Regions from separate parts of the Homo sapiens genome. Here region 2 is linked to region 1. A link means that fine-mapping ties the variant in region 1 to the expression of a gene that starts in the linked region. Tissue or cell type: esophagus muscle. Region 1 holds a variant in brackets; the other region holds the start of a gene. All regions are shown on one strand. Distances are between the middles of the regions.

Evidence for each region.
Region 2: ZWINT starts here. The variant in region 1 is fine-mapped to the expression of ZWINT in esophagus muscle (GTEx, PIP 0.97).

Annotation. Positions count from the first base shown.
Region 1 is chr10:56,461,075-56,463,998 of GRCh38, reverse strand. No RefSeq gene overlaps it. Among named protein-coding and RNA genes, the nearest start is that of ZWINT, 100 kb to the right of the region's middle. The variant G/A (reference allele first, on the strand shown) is at 1,257.
Region 2 is chr10:56,360,295-56,363,134 of GRCh38, reverse strand. ZWINT (ZW10 interacting kinetochore protein) reads left to right here and starts at 1,876. Exons shown (of 9, transcript NM_007057.4): 1 at 1,876-1,939; 2 at 2,752-2,840. The coding sequence starts at 1,899. LOC124902546 (a long non-coding RNA gene) reads right to left here and starts at 1,676. Exons shown (of 2, transcript XR_007062372.1): 1 at 1,279-1,676. RefSeq lists a silencer at 1,609-1,818 and enhancers at 1,909-2,078, 1,427-2,166, 2,792-2,840.

The sequences.
Region 1 (2,924 bases):
CAGAACTGGAATTAAAATTCAGGCTGCTTGTCCCTAAAGTTCACTTTCTTACATGGTATGTTAACATCTCCTAATACTCCTGGAGGACTCAGACCAGGCTTCTCAAGAGGTGACATGCTAGCTAATTATAAAATGACAATCTGAAGTATAATAAAAGAAATTCTAGACATATTGGATGACACAGAACACGACACACACAAAAATTAATGTGTTTGCAGAATTGATAAATTCTTGAGAGGCTATAATAATGTAGAGATAGAAAGAGAGCTTGCAGGAAGTACAGTTCTAATCATAGCCAGGAGATCGGCTTTGGAAAAATGTGTGTCTTCCCACTCCAACCTTTCTTCTTTTTTTCAGACGGCCTTGAGCTAACGTCTGTTAAGTTGAGGGAAAAAGTAGAATAGACAACAAATAAAATAGGATGAACTTCCAGTGTCTAAACTATGTCTAAAGGAGATGTTTGGCTTGGGTTCCTGAACACAGAAATGATTAAAGCAAAATAACTAGAAGAAGCCTACTAAGACTTGAGGGGATTTTATTTATAAATAAAACAAATCCTTATCCCTAAATTCTATGATTTCATTTCTAAATCAACTCCTAGGCCCCTAAACTTATGCTAGCAGAAAATTATCTGCAGATAATTCCTTACAATCCTGTATGAACACTTTAACACCTAAATAGGTATAGCTATTCTTACATTAGACTGTGGTAGTTTCTGTTTAAAGAGTCCCCAAATGAGTAGTTAAATATGATAAATATTTATTTTTATATGTAAAATGTAGGAGAAGTCAGCTCAATGGCCATCAGAGATGTGGGTTCCTATTTTGTTGCTCTCCCATTCTCAATATGTAGTTTTATTTTGTGGCCCAATAAGGCTCCCACCTTCAAATCTGCCTTTCAGCCAAAAGGCAGTGATTAATGAAAAGTAACAACATACTCTTTTTCTTAAGTGCATATAATTTGTATATTGATATATAATTTCTAAACATATTCCATTTGTTACAACATAGTCACAGAGCCACCTTACTGTAAAGAAGGCTCAAACAGTCTTCTTTTTCTTTTTCTTTTTTTTTTTTTTTAGATGAAGTCTAACTTGTCGTCCAGGCTGGAGTGCAGTGGTGTGATCTTCGCTCACTGCAACCTCCGCCTCCTAGTTTCAAGCAATTCTCCTGCCTCAGCCTCCCGAGTAGCTGGGATTACAGTCACCTGCCACCATGCCCGGCTAATTTTTGTATTTTTAGTAGAGACCGGGTTTC[G/A]CCATGTTGGTCAGGCTGGTCTCAAACTCCTGACCTCAAGTGATCTGCCTGTCACGGCCTCCCAAAGTGCTGAGATTACAGGCGTGCCGCGTCTGGCCTCTGCCTCTTTATCTCGGAGAACATATACCCAGTGAAACACATTTTTGTGTATGGAGTGGGAGATTTTTACGTGCTGTTTAAATGATGGGATTTTATAAATATGCATGTGATCTTAAGATAATAAAAAAGAAAAATGTAAACATTAGTCTAATCGCTTTTATACAATTTTAACATGTGGTTCAGACAACAGCCAAATGAAATTAAAAGGGAGGAGAAACAAGTGTGTATTGTAAATATAAACATTTTGATAATCTGATAATAAATTGTAGTAATCAATAAAAAGAATTCCAATATGATAGCCTGACAGAATAAGGAGCATAATACTTCTCCAGACAAGAAAGACAAATAGTGAATGACATAAATAATAACAGTAATAAAGGTAATAGTGTAAAAATAGTAGAAAAGTTATTAAAATAATAACTCATCCTCTGAGAACAAAATATATACCATATGCATAGCTATGCATATCACTTACCAGCATTATTTTATAATTTTAACAAACCTATAAAGTAGATGATACTATTTTCAACACATCTAATATTGAAGTTTGTGACTAGAGTGACAAATTCAAGGTCACAGAGGTAGTATATTACCAAGCCAGGCTATAACCCCACTTTTGTGTTACTTCTGAGTTAATACCACATTTTACTCTTAAAGTGTAGGAAAAAATTACCTCATTAATAACTTGACAAATCCAAATTAATGCAATTTATAAGACTGTAAAATGGATATTACCAGTAACACATAATGCAGCTATGGGTATTATAGACCAACTACCTCAATTACATATGATTATTTTTAAATTAATATTATTAAGTTGGAAATAATTTGTCAAAATAAATCCTAAATAATTTATAGTAGCAAGTTTTTCAAAGAACCAATTATTTAACAAAAAGAAAAGATATAAGTATAGAGAGCTACTTTCTAATATAGAGAGTATTAGGAAGATAAAAGATTCAAATTATAGTTACAAACTAACCAGTAGAACAAAAATGGAAATTATATTATTTTTAAAAACAAAAAATGCCATGAAATAGATAAAATGTAATAGCATACTTAAGTGAAAAAAATACTTAAAACTACAACATAAAATATTCAAGCATAACTAGGATATAACATGCCTATAATAATAATTAATGTAAATGGGCTGTACCAATGTATCAAAATAATAAGATAGTGGTTGGGCGCAGTGGCTCACACCTGTAATCTCCGCACTTTGGGAGGCTGAGGTGGGCAGATCACTTGAGGCCAGGAGTTCGAGACCAGTCTGGCCAATATGGTAAAACCCCATCTCTGCTAAAAATTCAAAATTAGCTAGGCGTGTTGGTGCTCATTTGTAATCCCAGCTACTCAGGAGGCTGAGACATGAGAATCACTTGAACTCAGGAGGCAGAGACTGCAGTGAGCTGAGATCTTGCCATTGCACTCCAGCCTTGGTGACAGAGTGATATTCCATCTCAAAATAATAATAGTAATAATAAGAAGATATTTATGTTAAATTTCAAGGTAAAAACTGATTTTATGCTATGTACACGTATGTGCTATATAACAATGTACTTTATATATCTA
Region 2 (2,840 bases), 100 kb after region 1:
TTAGTATATTTTCAAGGTTCATATTTTAGCATGTAGTAACCATTATTTAGCATGTAATAAAGTTCTCTTTACTACTGATTAATACTTCATTGAATGAAAGTATGCATTTTCACTCACCAGCTAATGGGCCTTTGGGTTGTTTTTACCTTTCAGCTTTTGTGAATAATGCTGCTATAGAGGTTTGTGTACTTTTGTGTCCCCATGTTTTTATTTGTCTTGGATATATAACTAGGAATGAAATTGTGACTCATATGGTAACCCTACGTTCAAAGCCTATGCACCAGTTTACATTTCCATCAACATGAGAATTCCACTTTCTTTACATCCTTAGCACCACTTACCTTTTTCATTATAGTTCTGATATCTTTTTGAAGATATGGGATATAGTTACAATAACTGTTTTAATGTCCTTGCCTGTTGATTCTAACATTACTTCAGTTCTGATCAGCAATTGATTTTTCTCCTCATTATGTGTTTTTTTTTTTCTTTTTGCAAGCTTGGTAATTTTTCTTTGTATGACATATGTAAATTGCACCTTTGGTGAACATTTTTCTATTTCTATAAATACTGCTGAAGTTTGGTCTTGTCATCTGTCATGGTTTGTTAAGTTTGATCCATTTGGGTCTTACTTTTAAGAGTTAGATGGCACTACAGCACTGATCAGCTAGGACTAATTACTGCCTACTAAATAATTAGTAAACAACTATCAAATCAAGACTTTTTTGTGTGTACTCTGTCCAGTGTCCTACGGACTATGAAGTTTTCCAGCCTGGTTAGTGGAAATAGAGACTATTTCTGACCCTCTGTAATGTCCATATATATATATTTATATATATATATATATGTATTTTTTTTTTTTTGTGAGACGGAGTCTCGCACTGTCACCAGGGCTGTAGTGCTGTGGCGCAATTTCGGCTAACTGCAACCTCAGCCTCCCTGGTTCAAGCAATTCTCCTGCCTCAGCCTCCCGAATAGCTGGGATTACAAGCGCCCACCACCACGCCCAACTAATTTTTTTTGTACTTTTAGTAGAGACGGGGGTTTCACCATGTTGGCCAGGCTGGTCTCAAACTCCTGACCTCGTAATTCACCTGCCTCAGACTCACAAAGTGCTGGGATTACAGACGTGAGCCACCGCGACCGGCCATGTCCTGGTATCTTTAAAAATCTTTTAGCTAGTTTCTTGAGACACATACTGCTCAGTACTCAGCTGAATGAATACCAAGTTCTCTCTCAGCAGTTATCTTTCTCCTGTACTCTGCAAAGAACATTACCTACCTTGGTCTCCCCAGAATATCTGTTCTATTTTGCCAACGCAGGCAATCGGCTGGGCTCTGCTTGAGTTCACTCTCCTGCATCGCATCTATAAAATACTAATATCTTTGAAAGCAGCTCGCTTTTTGAGCGCAGATCATTTGCTTCCTGTATCTCCCGGATCACTATTCTTTACTGATTCCCAGCGTCTTAGAAACAGCCCCACTGTTTTTCGGGGTTTTGTTTTTTTTTTTCTACAGCAGTAGTGAATATTTTAAATAAAGTGTCAATGCTGTAAGTTTCCCTTAAAACGCAAACTCAAGGAAATGCTTTCCCTTTTTCGAGTAGAGAAAGAACTTCCACAGGCGCGCGGTCGAGCTCAAGCCCACTTATAGTCTCTGGCACCGCGTAAGGACTAGCGCGCAGGCGCAGAGCCCGTGCGCGCCTAGCCATAACCGCGCTTGCGCCAAGCAGCGAGGCCCGCCAACGAGCGAATCCGCGCCTGCCAATTAGAGCGCACAATGGTCCTTGATGCCCGCCCACTAACCTCTGCAGCCAATCGCCTGCCCCGGCGCGAAGTCGACTGTGACTTCAAAGTAATCTTAGGGATTGTGGGAAGGCAGCTGAACTCGGCGCCTGGAAAGATGGAGGCAGCGGAGACAGAGGCGGAAGCTGCAGCCCTAGAGTAAGTGTTTGCGGCTAAGTGGCAGCTGGGGCCGGGCCTGGGAGGACCTTGTGGGCCCCTATGTGTAATGATTGGTGCCCTCGACCCTGTACAGCTGTTGAGGTTCGACCCTGCCGTGAAGTGATCCTCACCGCAGTCCCGTCTTAGGTTCCTGAGGTGTCTGTTGCCTGCTCCAGGAGTACAGCCTTTGGGGGACCGTTCGCCGCTCCCCACATCCACATAATCCACAGGATGTGCTCTAGGAGACGGTTTCACTTCTGTCTTCTTGTCCCAACACGACACATTCCCAGTCACTTCTCATCCCCATCCCTGCCCCTTCGTAGATTGCTCCAGTCCCTAATAATGAAAAACCCTAGAGTAGACCGAGGCATCCAGCCCTCTGCCCTGAGTCCTTTCTCAGCTATTCCAAGACTCTGCCCCAAGGCTGGTGCTCAGCGCCAGGAGGGATCCCAAGGCCCAGCATTCTTCCCCTTCCTTGCATATCTCCCTGGCTTCCTTCACATCTTGACTCAAATGATTTCTCTTCAGTGAGACACTCCCTATTTAAAATTTCAGCTCTTTTCTCAAACTCCTTATCCACTAGCCCTGCTGATTTTCCTTTTGGCACGTATTACCACCGTGTGCCCTCCATGCACGCCATTCCTGGTTGCAGGCTGTGGACCCTTCAGGCCCTTGTGTAAACTCTGGTCAAGGCAAGACTCTCAATACTATATATACTGATATACACATCCACATTTGTTTGTGTACACACACGAACTGTAGAACTAGCACCACAAGAAACTGCAATTTCCTGTGTTTCCTTGCCCCTCCAGGGTCCTGGCTGAGGTGGCAGGCATCTTGGAACCTGTAGGCCTGCAGGAGGAGGCAGAACTGCCAGCCAAGATCCTGGTTGAGTTTGTGG